Linked DNA regions of Homo sapiens: region 1 is linked to region 2. The links come from fine-mapping of genetic effects on gene expression. Tissue or cell type: whole blood. Region 2 holds a variant in brackets; the other region holds the start of a gene. All regions are shown on one strand. Distances are from middle to middle.

Region 1 (8,181 bases), 22 kb before region 2:
GGCATGCATCTCCTCCAGTGCATCACGTCGGAAGAACTTGCAGTCTCCACTTAAGATCTATTTCTGTCCAGCAAATAAGCCTAGTGCTTGGGGGTGCCAAGAGAAGAAAAACAAAAACAAAACCTGAAACCACTCACAAATCCCCACTCTCTAGATCTCCAGAGTCTTCCTCATTCTTTGTCCAGAAGCTTCTATTCCTACAACATCCTCTCTCAACATGATTCAGTTTCCATGACTCCTTGCCTTATATGAGACATATTCCAGAGTGATCTCTAGACAAGTGATCTCATCTGAGAGGTTACTGGAAACCCCAGGACCATTTCTGGGAAACGTCCAGCTGGGACTAATCTCATCTGCTATGCATGGGACCTTGTCAGCTCCAATTACCCACAGAGGCCTGAGAGTGATGGAAATGGCTCTGTCTACTCAGGAATAGGATGGGCGTGTCACCGGCTCTGTGGGATTATCTGCCCTGTTTCTCCTTGAATTGGCCATATTTGTGCACCAGCCCTGACTTCAATGCATGTTATATAAGAATCCTAAATGACATCTGATCTTCACCCTCCCCTTTCTTCCATTCCAGGCGGTCATAGGGCAACCACGAGAGTTGCAAGGGAGAGTGGCAGAGACGAGGTGTTCCTACCTTTTTGTCCCCACCAAACCGGTTTCCATCACCTCACATTTTCACGTGTGAACCACATCTATAAACACTTTTGATTGGATTTGCTTTAGAAATCTCAGACCGATTGTTCCGAAATGACACTCCTTGATATAAGGGGGAATGGAGTCAGGTGTAGGTTTGGAGACAAAGACTAAGTGGGAAAGAAGGCTCAGTCCCTGAGAGAGGAACTGAAAAACACTTTCTAGGGAGGCTCTTCCTTACAGTGGAATGCCAACTAATAAATAGAGAAGGGGTGATGGGGTTAGAAAATTATCAACAGATGCCAAAGCCAGTAGAAAATTTGACTGAACAATAGGATATTTACTTAGTCTCAAGATATATCCTTACATGTTGCTTATTAATTACAAAGAAAAAAATAGTAACTTTACAATGTTGAAACATGGCAGATACCACCTTAACCAAGTGATCAAAGTTAACTACGCCAGTGATGGGACAAACTGATGTCTTGTACCGGATGGTATGATGAACCGAGGACACAACATCACATCAGTGGCAATTCTACCAATTTAGACAAACGCCAGTTGTGGGCTGTCCTACAACATAACTCAGCTGCAGTCTTCAAAAATGTCACAGTCAAATAAAAAAGAAAAGCTGAGATTAAAGATTCCAGGTTAAAGAAGACTAAGGAGATACAACAAGTAAATGCAATGTATGATCATACAAAAAAAAAAAAAGAAAAAAAAAAAGAAAAAGGAAGGCCAGGCATGGTGGCTCATGCCTGTAATCCCAACACTTTGGGAGACCGAGGCGGGTGGATCATGAAGTCAAGAGATGGAGACAATCATGGCCAACATGGTGAAACCCCATCTCTACTAAAAATACAAAAATTAGCTGGGCATGGTGGTGCTCGCCTGTAGTCCCAGCTACTGGGGAGGCTGAGGCAGGAGAATCGCTTGAACCTGGGAGGTGGAGGTTGCAGTGAGCCAAGATCATACCACTGCACTACAGCCAGGGTGACAGAGCGAGACTCCAACTCAAAAAAAAAAAAAAAAAAAAAAAAAAAGAGAGAAAAGAAAAGAAAAGAAAAGAAAAAGGAAAAAAGAAAGAAACCTGGCCGGGTGCAGTGGCTCATGCCTGTAATTCCAGCACTCTGGGAGGCCGGGGTGGGCAAATCACTTCAGGTCAGGAGTTCGACACCAGTCTGGTCAACATGGTGAAACCCCGTTTCTACTAAAAATACAAAAATTAGCCAGGCATGGGAGTGTGCACCTGTAATCCTAGCTACTCAGGAGGATGAGTCATGAGAATTGCTTGAACTCAGGAGGTGGAGATTGCAGTGAGCTGAGATTGTGCCACTGCACTCTAGCCTGGGCAACATGGCGAGACCTCATCTCTACCAACATAAATAAATAAATAATACAAAAATTAGCAGGCATGGTGGTGCACACCTGTAATCCCAGCTACTTGAGAGGTTGAGGTGGGAGGATCCCTTGAGCCTGGGAAATCAGAGGCCGCAAAGAGCTGAAATCATGCCACTGGGTGACAGAGCGAGACTCTGTCTCAAAAACAAAAAAGAAAATACACACTGAAATACTTAGGGATAAACGGGCATGATATCTATAGCTTTCTCTTAAAAAAAGTATATGTATAAATTATGTATCATGTATATGTATATATACTTATAGGATACATTATATATATGTATGTATACAGAGAGAGGCAGAATGATAAAGTAAATGATATAAAATGTGAATAACTGGGGAAATTTGGATAAATTGCATATGGGAGTTACTTGTATCATTCTTATAACTCTTCTGTAAATTTAGAATCATAGTAAAATTAAAAAGTTATTCAAAAAGGAAAAAACATTGATGAACATCATATGCCGATTTATAAGAAGAGATGAGGTATAAGGAGTACAACTATATGCCTAGGGGCTTAATCAGCCCTTTGGATCTTGAATCATGATCGTATTGATTTTTAGATGAATCTGGGGAAGATTGATGGACTTAAATGAGTCTTATTATTTATGACCTGATATATTTGTTTACTTTTCTTACATTTTAAAAAAACATCAATTATTTTAAAAAGTCATCTTCTCTCTTTAAAAAACCTGCCTTCTAGGCAGGAGCACTTAAGACCTTGGGCAAATCGATTCATTCCCTTTTGCCCAGCTTTCTCATCATTTAATTTGGAATAACAAAAGTCTGCCCCTCCCACCCAGGGTTGCTGCTGATTCAGAGGAGACCTAAGAGAGGCGGAGCGCTGAGAAGTCCGAAACTGGCTCTGTGCCCTGTGGGGTGGTCGATGGGGTTCATCTCTAAGGAGGTTCTGTTGAATTGAAGGTGCTGACCTCACCCTCCTGTCCCGGGACAGGCACTGTGGGGACGTGCACTGACTGGTACCAGCGACAGGATGAGACCTGAAGTGGCATTCCCAGTGATTCAGCTTAGAAAGCTAAGTTCTCCACGCACTGAGGAATGGAGAACTGACACTTTCTTCAGATTAAATTGGTATTTGAGGCAAATACCAGGGCATTTGAGGTATTTGAGGTATTTGAGGATTGCCAGGGCACTGAACTGGATAACCTTAAATAATCAAGGGGTTTTTAACTGAATTGAAATTTAAAATTCAATCCCCTGGTGCATTTACAAGATGTGTTATCTTCTTAGCTGCTAGTGACATTGTGGGCTTAGAGAAACTCTAGTCTGAATGATTTAATGAAACCTTCCAGGACTTGAAGAGCTGAAAGGGGCTTTTGCAGTCATTCGCCCAGTCTCCCAATACATGCAGGAGCCTCTTCCAGCATTCTTGACAGGGAGGATCTGACCAGTCTCAGAAGAACCCCAACAAGAGGGAGCTCATAGCCCATGCTAAGATACCTTGTCTCATTTAGAACATCTCTTTTGCTCCTAGTGTTTAGAGTGACAGGGGCTCTGGCAGATGCGAAAACCCGGTCATTGGGCTGCAGAGTCTTGGTCAAAAATACACAAAGAGAGGACCTGGACTGTCTGCCAGTCGCCCTTCAGCTCTCAAGAAGAGGACACAGGGAGCATCAGCCGACAGCTAAGAGATGGAGGGAGGGAAGGAGAGACAGAGAAGATGGAAAGGGACAAAAGGAAGAGAAGAGACAGAAGGGTTTGGTGAGTGAGACAGAAAAGGTAAAGAGAGACGGAGTGGAAAGAAGAGCAGAGAAAGAGCCGAGGAGTGGGGAACTGGGAGCTCTCCCTGAGGACACTTGTGGAGGAAGGCGCCAGGTGGACTGGCCACTGGTCCTTCCCTTCAGGGTGCCTTACCCCATTCTTGTCGAAGGCTCGGAACATGCCCTCTACATACTGGGAGGCCTCCTCATCGTCTGTGACCTTGAAGAAGCGCTTAAACTCATGCATAAAGAGTGTGCCGCTGGGGCACTCCATCACAAACTTCTTGTACCACTCCTGGAGCTCCGCCACATCTATCTCGCCAGCTGCCTCCGCCTCCTCCCAGCTAAACTCCTGCCCCATGCTAGCCCTGAGGAGCATCAGGGAGCAAGGGTCTGTATCTCCTCCCTGGCTTCTGCTGATGGATCTCTCCAACTAGGGCCCTCTTCCTCCCTTTCCAGGAGGCCTGATCAGCCTCTCCATCATCTCCTGGGTGACTGAACATGATCAGTCGGTGCAGGGGGCAGGTGGCAAGGGAGGTGGGTCCAGGCCAGCTAAGCTGCCCTAAGACTATTAGAAGATTCCCCAGGTGGCCGGGTGCGGTGGCTCATGCCTGTAATCCCAGCACTTTGGGAGGCCGAGGTGGGTGGATCACAAGGTCAGGAGTTCGAGACCAGCCTGGCCAACATGGTGAAATCCTGTCTCTACTAAAAATACAAAAAATTAGCTGGGCATGGTGGTGGGTACCTGTAATCCCAGCTATTCAGGAGGCTGAGGCAGGAGAATCACTTGAACCTGGGAGATAGAGGTTGCAGTGAGCTGCGATCACACCACTGCACTCCAGCCTGGGGGACAGAGTGAGACTCTGTCTCAAAAAAAAAAAAAAAAAAAAAAAAAGAGATTCCCCAGGAAGTTCTGACCTCCAGCCTAAACTCCTCCAGCCTCACTCCTTCCCTTAGCCTTGTCAACAAAGCAACCAAGCTGGCCCTGGTAGACTCTGAAGAGGTAGAAGGGGAAGAAACTGAGAGGTAAGCAGAGAGATGCAGAGTGAAGAAAGAGTCGGGGTGCTAGGCTGGGATCCTCCCATCTCACTCACTCCCTATCTCTTTAGCTGGGCCTCACATTGCTTCAGGGAGGCCCATCTTGGAGACAGGAGACTCAAATCCAGAGAGGAAGTGAGATCAAGTCCTAGGCCATAAAACAGAATCTGCTGGTGATCTGGGACTCGCCCCTCAGACGGTCTAGTGAAAAGAGGCAGAATCTATGATGGGAAGGGCTCTAGGTGAGCAACTCTCTTCCCAGGCTAACTCGGTCCCTGAAGCTCCTTTCCAGATTACACCTTTCATCTTGGGAGCTTTTCACTTTCTGATTTAAACTACAAATGCCTCCCTCCAACCCTTCACACAAGACCTAGGGGTAGTGCCTTTTTCACATTTCCTCCAAAATACTAACATGTGAGAAGGATCTGGGAGCATGGCCTAAAATATCTTTGAAGGCTCTTACTTTTACATTATAGGTCATGTAAAATTTGCTTTTGAACAATTACATATTCATGCTTATTTTAATGTAACATAAAAATGACACCTCCAAGAAATCAAAAGACCAGGGACACACATTTTTCTTTTTCTTTGCTTTTTTTTTTTAAATTTCTATTTTTTGAGACAGGGTCTCGCTCTGTCGCCCAGGCTGGAGTGCAGTGGTGTGATCTCGGCTCACTGCAACTTCCGCCTCCGGGTTCAAGTGATTCTCATGCCTCAGCCTCCCGAGCAGCTGGGATTACAGGTGCACACCACAACACCCAGCTATTTTTTCTTCTTTTTTTTTTTTTTATTATACTTTAAGTTCTAGGGTACATGTGCACAACATACAGGTTTGTTACATAGGTATACATGTGCCATGTTGGTTTGATGCACCCAGCAGCCAGCTAATTTTTGTATTTTTAGTAGAGATGGGGTTTCATCATGTTGGCCAGGCTGGTTTCAAACTCCTGACCTCAAGTGATCCACCCGCCTTGGTCTCCCAAAGTGCTGGGATTATAGGCATGAGCCACCACGCCCAGTGACACTCATTTTTCTAGAAGACTTCAGAGGCAGCAGTTCCAGTGAATCTATCCTTAACCTACCCATCCCTCACTGGGTGTTCAGCCTGAATTGTTTTGCACATCTCCAGGCCTGACCTCCTCTCTCACTGTTCTCTGCCTCCAGACGTCACTGAGCTCTGAAAGCTCTTTTAACTTTCTTGCTATTCCTGAAGGAGAAATGTGATTTCTTCTGTCATCCTTTCAAGTGGTGGTGGGTTTTTCTCCCCCACACACACCTCAAGGTCTAGATAACAGGGCTAGTGTCCTCCTCGCTTCTAACTCTTGCCTCCAAATGGCCTTTTACTTTTTTCTCCCCAAAAAAGGCCAGTCCCTTTGAAGCCACATCTGACTCCTTGCCACTATTTACTTCTCCTCATTACTGTCATTCACTGGTGACTTCCCTGCTTGTCTCAAAGCATCATGTCAGTCATTTCAGTGACTGTGACCTCCAAGTGGATAAACAGCCCATCCCATACACTGGCCTCAAAGGTACTTGATCTCTCTCTCTTTTTTTTTTTTTTTTTTGAAACAGAGTTTTTGCTCTTTTCACCCAGGCTGGAATGCAGTGGTGCGATCTCGGCTCACTGTGAACTCCGCCACCCGGGTTCAAGCGATTCTCCTGCCTCAGCCTCCCTAGTAACTGGAATTACAGGTGCCTGCCACCATGCCCGGCCAATTTTTCTATTTTTAGTAGAGATGGGGTTTCACCATGTTGACCAGGCTGGTTTCGAACTCCTGACCTCAGATGATCTGCTCGCCTTGGCCTCCCAAAGTGCTGGGATTACAGGCATGAGCCACTGCGCCCGGCCCCAGTGAGATGTGTGGGGGTCACACTGCCCTCTTAGTCTCTAATTGCTGGCAACCTGGCATGGTCCCACATGCGTAAGCCACCGGGCCTGGCCTGGTCCTTGATCTCTTTAGTTCCAAAGAGCTTTTCTTCCACCTTACCTAGTACTTCCATTCACTTGTGGTCCCTGAGCCACAAGTGCAGCATCTGGGAGCTTGCTAGAAATGCAATGTCTCAGGCCCCACCTCAGACCTGCTGAATCAGGAACTGTGGGCTGGGGCCAGGAGTCTGTGTTTTAACAAGCCCTCCAGGTGCTTCCAATGCGTACTGAAGTTTGAGGATCACCACCCTAGGCCTTGCTGTCACCAATCTCTACTACCTCTGAAACATTCAAACGCTGCCGTCTGTTATCAGCACCCCACCCCTTCCATCTGTTACTGTAATACCTTCACTCCAATAATTCACTAATCTCATTGCGACTTCCAACCTGCTGATCTGTTTTTAACATCTGTCATCTTGCTCATCTCCTCACTCTCCTCCTTATCTTCATTCCATGGCCCAGCATTCTCTCCATTTTGACTTTTGTGCCCCTCTCTCCTCCTAACGCCTCACTTGGCCTGGCCCTGGTTAAGGCTGTTCACTAACTATGCAGTAACACTTTGCCTACAGTGGGGAGCCTGGACATCATTGGAGGACATCATAAATCATGCTGGCTGTACGCACTTCAGATCATGCCAGACAATCATACTACATACTCTTCCTGCCGAATTCCCTCTCCCCCTCTCTGAGATGACTATTCCACAGCGCTTCCTGCCCTCAAACCTTCCACTCACTCCCACACTGTTGCACACTTCACAGAGACAGATGAGGCAGTGACTCATCTTCCCACCAGTGTTTACCAACTTCTCTGTATCTGTGCCCATGTCCTCTGCCCCCTTCCGGTCTCAGTGGAAGCAGCGTGCCCTTCCCCTTGTCCCCGTCAACACCGCCACTTGTTTCCTAGATCACATCTCTCTTTACCTACTCGAAAGCTTCCTTCCCGCAGTTACTCCCTTTCTCTTCTGCAGCCTCCACTCATCCCTCTCTAATGGATCATTCCCGTCAGCATTCAGGTGTGCTGTAATATTGCCTTTATTAAAACAAGACAAAAATCCTTCCTTGACCCCACATTCAGGGCTACATTATGACATTCACGGGCCCCACACGTTTTTGCCTTCATGGGTCATAATACAAATACTGAAAAAATATTAAATAAGTAAATATTAATAATTATCACTGGTATAAAAAAGAACATAATCTAGACTCGGTGTTTCTTTTAAATTATGATTTTATTTTATTATTATTATTATTATTATTTTGAGACGAAGTCTCGCTCTGTCACCCAGGCTGGAGTGCAATGGCACGATCTCGGCTCACTGCAACCTCTGCCCCACCGGGTTCAAGTGATTCTCCTGCCTCAGCCTCCCAAGTAGCTGGGATTACAGGCGTACGCCACCATGCCTGGCTTATTTTCTATTTTTAGTAGAGACAGGGTTTCACCATGTTGGTCAGG
Region 2 (8,181 bases):
GATATGACACTGACTATACCTATAACTTCAACCTCTTCCACCCTAATACCTAAAGACCTTAGAAATAATGGGTTTGACATTTTTGACTTTCTTCCAAAAGGTGAATTACCTTCATTTCATTCATCCGTTAAACCAGTAAATTATACTACTAATCCAATGATTCAGAGTTAAATCACTTCACTCCTGAAAGATTTACTTACTAGCCAGAAAGCTAGATATCCACTCTCAATTACTCCAAAAAGGGTTGTTGGAAGAACAGAATATACTGATAGCCTGTGTCCTAAGTTGAGGGATGAGAAGGGGGAATATAGCCTCAAGATGTGTTCTGACTGATCCCTACAGGGTGTTAAAAGATACTTTGAATTTGTTAGGAATATTAAAAATCAGAAGATTTCACAAGAAAATCTGGATTTCAGTTTAGCTTGGAAGATTTAGACAGGCTGGCATCACTAGGTCTGATTTCCCACAGGGCAACAAGTGGCTAGAATAAGTAGCTGCTGTCTTGCTTATAAAGACAGTGGCACACCATGCCAATTCTGCCACCTTTTCTTATAGGCCTGGCTCCTGCAGGCATGTGAGTTGCAGACTGGGGCTTAAATGTACTATCATAGAAATACATCCAGTACTGGCCAGGTGTGGTGGCTCATGCCTGTAATCCCAGCACTTTGGGAGGCTGAGGCAGGCAGATCACTTGAGGCCAGGAATTTGAGACCAGCCTGGCCAACATGGGAAAACCCCATTTCTACTAAGAATACAAAAATTAGCCAGGCATGGTGGTGTGTGCCTGTAATCCCAGCTAGTCGGGAGGCTAAGGCATGAGAACTACTTGAACCCAGGAGGCTGAGGTGAGGTGAGCCGAGATCATGCCACTGCACTCCAGCCTGGGTGACAGAGCGAGACTCTGTCTCAAAATAAATAAATAAATAAATATCCAATATCTATTAAGAGAAAAGTTAGAAAAGAGCAGTAAACTAGACATGTGCACAGACAAAGTGAGTACCTACAGACAAATGTCTAGAACTGTAATCCCAAACTGTTAAAGGGGGTTATTTTTGAGGGGTGGAAATGAAAGGATTTTTAAAAATTACAAGTAACACAAAAAACTGGATTGATGAAATCATAGCTTCTACAGGGTTACCAAGTTCCTTCTAGATGTTTATTATTTGTGCTAACGCATTTTCTCACTGTGAACAATAAAGCACTGTCCAGGCCCAGGCTCAATACACAAAATGAAAACAAAGACTTGAAGGCTACAAGAAAAATACTTTTCCATAACATAAATCAAGTATTCTACATCACAAATTCTGACAACTCTTCCATTATGCCAAGCTAAAAGCAAGAGACTACTAATTAACACAGTTATTTGGGGGTAAATAATTTATTCCTTTAGAACTTACTTTGATACCCTGAAGACAATATAATCCAGGGAGTTAAGAGAATATATGCGTTGTGCATTTGCCAGTATTCTAGGACAAAATTTTTTTATTCATAGAGTGTTTGGGGAAAAAAAACCCAATGAAATAATAAGGAAAACCTATTGCCAAGGTAGCTCCTTATACCAAGAAACAGGGAGTACATACCACAGGTTTGGTCAAATCCTTTGGAACATCAACGTGTAGGTTTGAAAACTGTACCCACTTCATATTGGTACTGCTATGTGTGGGGAAAAAAAGAGAAACCTAAGTAAAATAGCACAAGAACCTATTTTGTTCAATTTAGCACATCCAATTGTATACTTACAGAAGCAAGCCACCATTTTTGGCTGTATTGCCCTTAGAAGTGTTTACAGAAAAATTCCCCAATCCCTAAAGAAAAAAAAAGTAGGACATGTGTTAGAATTAAAGTCAACTACCAAACCATTCATAATTTCCACTAAAAACTAAAAGGTTACCTCATTATTTCAGACGAAGATACTGGGGTAACTAAAATGGCCAAATTAGATTGAAAAAAAAAAGAGGACAATGGTAGAGCTGATGATAAAAAAAAAAGCAGTCTCAAAATACTAGAGAATCTCTATTTTAAAGATTAGGAATAAAAACTTTTTCAAAAAAAACAATTCTCACATTTAAAAAAAGCTATGAATTATGTGGACATCAAGAAAAAATGTGACTTCATTTTCCCATTATTTTTTACAAATTAATTGTACTTCAGTATAATACTTATTTTGCCTGAATATCTTTAAGCAATAAAATATATTGTTTTTATAATTTGTTAAGAGTTGGAATAAAAATTCTGAAGTATCCCTCTTTTGATGCTTTCATACATCTTTTAAAGCATACATATTTCTTAGCTTGGCTGGGATAACTAGCTTATAATGAACTGAAATATGTGCTGTGACTTATACCCATCATTAACTACTGTGCCACATGCTACAACGAACCCACATTTCCAAATCCTTTACCATCAGCTCCCCCTGGTGGAACAAGACTTTCCAGTTTTAGGAAACAAACGATACTACTACATATAACAGCTGTTTTTTCCTTTCAACTTTTCTGAGATTTTGAAGTGTAACCTGAGAAAGTGGAAACACAATAGAATCCTTAAAAACACAATGAAGATGAAAATAAGGCCAGGTGCCGTGGCTCACACCTGTAATCCCAGCACTTTGGGAGGCCAAGGTGGGTGGATCACTTGTAGTCAGGAGTTCCAGAGCAGCCTGGCCAACATGGTGAAACCCTGTCTCTACTAAAAATACAAAAATTAGCCAGGCATGGTGGCGGTGCGGTTGTGATCCTAGTTACTTGGGAGGCTGAGGCAGGAGAATCGCTTGAACCCGGGAGGCGGAGGTCCAGGCTGGGTGACAGAGCGAGACTCCCTCTCAAAAAAAAAAAAAGAAGTTTAGCATAAGTGAAGTTTCATTAATACAAATGATTGTCACCTAAGTACGTTTTTGTTTGTTTTTTCAGGGTTTTTTTGAGACAAGGTCTCACTCTGTTATCCAGGCTGGAGTGCAGTTGCATGATCATGGCCTGGACCTCCCAGGTTCAGGTGGTCCTCCCACCCCAGTCTCCCAGATAGCTGGGACTACAGGCACGGGCCACCAGGCCCAGCTAATATTTTGTACTTTTGTAGAGATGGGGTTTCACCATATTTCCCAGGCTGGTCTTGAACTCGTGGGCTCAAGCGATCCTCCAGCCTCAGTGTCCCAAAGTGCTGGGATTTCAGGAGTGAACCACCACCTAGCCACGTTTTAAAAGCCTATTCTTAGCTTATTGTCCTTCCTCTCCTTACCCAAGATAGAGACAAATCATAACTCTATAATCTTCTTTGCACCAAAGGGGAAAAGGAAAAAGGAAATCAGGTACAACACAAAGTGGTAAGAGGTATGTGCCATTCTTCAGACAAAATTGCATAGAAAATTCCCTCCCAACAATTACACCAGTGACCCCACAATCGAGTTGTGCAAGAGGAGCAAGAATATTACACTTCTCAGTCACATTCTCCCACTATAAACCTCTGCTTTTTCTTTTCTTTTTTTTTTCTTTTCTTTTTTTTTTTTTTTTTGAGAGAGTCTTGCTCTGTCGCCCAGGCTGGAGTACAGTGGAGCATTCTCAGCTCACTGAAACCTCCGCCTCCTGGGTTCAAGCAAGTCTCCTGCCTTAGCCTCCTGAGTAGGTGGGATTACAGGGGCCCACCGCCACACTCAGCTAATTTTTGTATTTTTAGTAGAGACGGAGTTTTGCCATGTTAGCCAGGATGGTCTTGATCTCCTGATCTCGTGATCCGCCCACCTCGGCCTCCCAAAGTGTAGGGATTACAGGCGTGAGCCACCGTGCCCGGCCAAGAAGTTTTTAAATTGCATTTTTTCTTTGTATTTCTTGAGAGAGAGAGAGAGAGAGAGAGAGAGTGTGTGTGTGTGTGTGTGTGTGTGTGTTGGGGGAGTGGTGGTTTGGAAGGGAGGGCTGTCTGGGTAAATTTGTCTTAATAAAGCAGTTCAAAAATTTCAATCTCTAATACCATCTGACTTTTCTCAAGAACAGTGGTTTTCAGGCCGGGTGCGGTGGCTCAAGGCTGTAATCCCAGCACTTTGGGAGGCCGAGGCTGCCGGATCACTTGAGGTCAGGAGTTCGAGACCAGCCTGACCGACATGGTGAAACCCCGTCTCTGCTAAACATACAAATACTAGCTGGGCATGGTGACGCATGACTGTAATTCCAGCTGCTCGGGAGGCTGAGGTAGGAGAATCACTTGAACCCGGGAGGTGGAGGCTGTAGTGAGCCGAGATCGTGCCATTGCGCTCCAGCTTGGGCGACAAGAGCGAAACTCCGTCTCCAAACAAAAACAAAAACAAAAACGGTGGTCTCAAAGTGTAGTCTGAGGACGTCTGTGGGGTCTGAGACACTTTCAGGGGATCCGGGAAATCAAAACTATTTTCATAAAACCAAAACGTCATTTACAACTTTTCCACTCATTCTCTTACCAGTGTACAGTGAAGTTTTCCCGTGACAGCCTGAGGTGTGATATAGGAAAAGATTAAATACAGAAGCAGATTTGAATCTAGCTTTTATTAAGCCAGAAATTAAAGAGAGCTGCAAAAATGTAAAACATTGCTGCTCCTTACTCAGTTTGTTCAGAAAATATATTTTTCATAAAGTATTAGTTGTAACATGTAATGAGTTAGTGTTACTTTTAAATCAATATATATTCTTAAGTTTTATTTTCCAAAAAGCTAAATATAGATAGCAAAAACCCACAAAAACAAAAGCTCTCTGGAGTCCTGAACTCCGAAAGTGT[A/G]AAGTGGTCCCAAGGCCAAAAAGCAGGAGAACCGCTGCTGAAAAGTTTTTGCTCCTCCTGCAAATAACTGCGCAGAGGATATCTAACCCACTTCTCTGGCTTGAGACCTTCATCTAAATTTGGATGCCAGGAAAGCATCTCAATTTAGTTCCATGGGAAGAGTCTGATATCTTGCACCAGCTCAGCCTCTAATTTTCGCGAGGCAAATTTCCTGTCTTCTCTGAGCCTCAGTTTATTTTGCAAGCGTGAAAGGAGGGGTTTTGGAACATACGAAGTACAAAATCTTTTCCAGCTCTGACATTCTACGATTATTCTTGTTCCTATCTTTGCCTGGACTCACTAACTTATATTTAATTCCATGAGAGAATTCTGATAAAACTAGCCCCTTTCTCGTCACTTTCCTGTAAACGGCGCGAGGTGAGGGATAAATATCAGGAAAAATCCTGATGGGCAGAGCGGCTGGTGGCAGGGAAACTTAAAAGCAACTATCCCGGTCAGCCCTCCTAGTCTCCCTAGCCAATCCAGTACCTGCCAGAGGCGCCGGCACACAGCACCGAACGCTGTCCGCGCCGCCATCTTGCCGGTCCCGACCTCTCAGGATTGCTTCCGGGGTTACAGCGGCGTCCTCAGACCATAGAGTTCCGCAAAAGAAGAGAGTACATCCTCATGTTCCGGCGCTGGAACAACCATAGAGACATGAACCTGTGCTTTTTGGGGGCGGGACAGTTGGCTGGCCAGGCTGGTTTGGCTCCGGCCAGTGTCTGGATAGTTACCAAGCCCTATTAATGTTTTCACCTTTAAATTGTTGTGTGTGTATACACACACACACACACACACATTTATTTATTTACTTATTTTTTCCTTTTAGAGACTGAGTCTCACTCGGCTGCCCAGGCTGGAGTGCAGTGGCACAGTCATAGCTCACTGCAGCCTCAAACTCCTGCCTCAAGTGATCCTCCTGCCTCAGCCTCCCAAGTAGCTGGACTACAAGTGCGTGCCACCACAGCCGACTAATTTTTTGTTTTTTTTTTTAATTTTCTTGTAGAGACAGGGTCTCATTATATTGCTCTCGTTATTTTGTGGGCTGGTCTTGAATTCCTGTCCTCAAGTGATCCTCTGGCCTTGGCCTCCCAAAGGACTGAGATTACAGGCATGAACCACAAAGCCCGGACTGAAACTAGTGTATTGACACCATTTACTTCAGTACTGGAATAATGGGTGATTTATTTTCCTATTTTTGCATTTTTCAATTTTTTTTGCATTTTTCAAAATTTTAACAAAATCTATATTTAACAAGAAAAAGAAAAGTCGGCCACTACCATTGGGTCCAGTTGCCACTCAGTTACCTTATTGCAGCGGCTTTCTAATTATGGTTCTTAATCCTTTCTTCCTTCCCCACACCAATTGGAATTCCTGTGCTCCAACCATTTTGTATACCGCTGTCCTACTGATCTTTCTAAATTATTCATTTCCTTATGTTACTCTAGTATTTAGGAATTTACAATGGCTAGCTTCACTTACAACAAGCCAAAGTGTTTTGTCTAATTATTAATGTCCACCATAATTTTTTCCAAGTAAAAAGATGTATAACTGGGATTTGCTATAATAAAAACTTCTTCAGGCTGGGTGCGGTGGCTCACGCCTGTAATCCCAGCACTTTGGGAGGCTGAGGTGGGCGGATCACCTGAGGTCAGGAGTTCGAGACCAGCCTGGCCAACATGGTGAAACCCCATCTCTACTAAAAATACAAAAAATTAGTGGGGTGTCATCGTTGTGTGCCTGTAGTCCCAGCTACTCAGGAGGCTGAGGCACGAGAATTGCTTGAACCCGGGAAGTGGAGGTTGCAGTGAGGCAAGATCGTGCCACTGCACTCCAGCCTGGGAGACACAATGAGACTCTGTCTAAAAAAAAAAAAAAAAAAAGAAAAGAAAAGAAAAGGCCAGGTGCAGTGGCTCGGCTCACACCTGTAATTCCAGCACTCAGCACTTTGGGAGGCCAAGGCGGGTGGATCACCTGACGTCAGAAGTTCAAGATCAGCCTGGCCAACATGGCAAAACCCTGTCTCTACTAAAAATACAAAGTCAGGCATGGTGGTGTGCACCTGTAATCCCAGCTATTTGGGAGGCTGAGGCAGGAGAATCTCTTGAACCCGGGAGGCAGAGAGTGCAGTGAGCCGAGATTGAGATTGTACCACTGCACTCCAGTCTAGGGAACAGAGCGAGACTCCGTCTCCAAAAAAAAAACTTATTCCATTTGTGCAAATCTTTAAAAATTTATTTTTATTTTTCCTTTTACTTTCTCCTCATCTTAAAGTCTGCTTCTATAATACTATATTGTCTTTTTTGTGTGTGTGTGTGAGACAGTGTCTCGCTCTGTTGCCCAGGCTGGAGAGCACTGGCTTGATCATAGCCCACTGCAGCCTCAAACTCCTGGGGTTAAGTGATCCTCACACCACAGCCTCTGGAGTATCTAAAACTACAGGTGTTTGCGACCATTTTTTATTTTATTTTTATTGTTTTGTAGAGACAGAGACTTGCTATGTTGCCCAGGCTGGTCTCAAACTCCTGGCTTCCAGCAATCCTCTCACCTTGGCCTCCCAAAGTGCTGGTTTTACAGGTATGAGCCACTGCACTTGGCCCATTTGTTCACATTTCTAAGCTTTATTTCCCCAAAGTGCTTTCACATATGCATTTTAGCCTAATGGAAAACTCTAGCCTTATAATCAGATCTGGTTTCTAATCCCAGGCTTACCAGTTAGTTGAGTGACTTTGAGCAAGTTACTTCCTTACCCTCAGCCTCAGTTTGCTCATATGTCAAAAAAAAAAAAAAAAAAAAGATAACAGTAGTTCCTGCTTCCAATAGTTGCTTGGGAATTCAATGCAATACCAATATATGGTGTTTAGTACAATACTGCCATGTAATGATACACTATAGATGTCATCCACTATTTGTGCCATTAAGTTTCTACCTCACCTGCCTCACAAGGTTGTTGAGAAGATTAAAAATAAAAAGATCAAGTTTATGAGAATATTTTATAGCATCCAAATAAAGAACTGTACAAATATAAAGTTGTTTTTTTTTTCTCCCCACAAATAGTTATTACTACCCTATTTTGCAGGCAAGAGAACCAAAGAAGAGGCAGAATGATTTGCCCAACATCACACCTATCTAGGAGATAGAAAAGGTCTAGGAGCAGAAACCAGTTTTCCTGCCCCTCAGGCTGGCCTCTGTTTACTAGAATTCAGTCCGTGTTGAGGTGTGGCAGAGATTCCAGTGTGGCCTTGCAACAGGGTATGGAAACAGCACACTTCACCTGTGTGCACTTCTTATTTATTTATTTTTGAGACGGAGTTTCACTCTTGTTGCCCAGCCTGGAGTGCAATGGCATGACCCTGGCTCACTGCAACCTCCACCTCCTGGGTTCAAGTGATTCTCCTACCTCAGCCT

The links. PIP is the estimated chance that this variant, and not a neighbour inherited with it, causes the effect.
Region 1: it holds the start of GUCA1B, and the variant in region 2 is fine-mapped to the expression of GUCA1B in whole blood (TOPMed, PIP above 0.99).

The regions. Positions count from the first base shown.
Region 1 is chr6:42,190,696-42,198,876 of GRCh38, forward strand. It overlaps GUCA1B (guanylate cyclase activator 1B), which reads right to left and starts at 4,261. Exons shown (of 4, transcript NM_002098.6): 1 at 3,919-4,261. The coding sequence starts at 4,125. RefSeq lists a cis regulatory region at 6,752-7,704.
Region 2 is chr6:42,212,540-42,220,720 of GRCh38, forward strand. It overlaps MRPS10 (mitochondrial ribosomal protein S10), which reads right to left and starts at 5,322. Exons shown (of 7, transcript NM_018141.4): 1 at 5,263-5,322; 2 at 1,741-1,805; 3 at 1,581-1,653. The coding sequence starts at 5,310. RefSeq lists enhancers at 3,434-4,036, 4,037-4,638, 5,210-5,489. The variant A/G (reference allele first, on the strand shown) is at 4,735.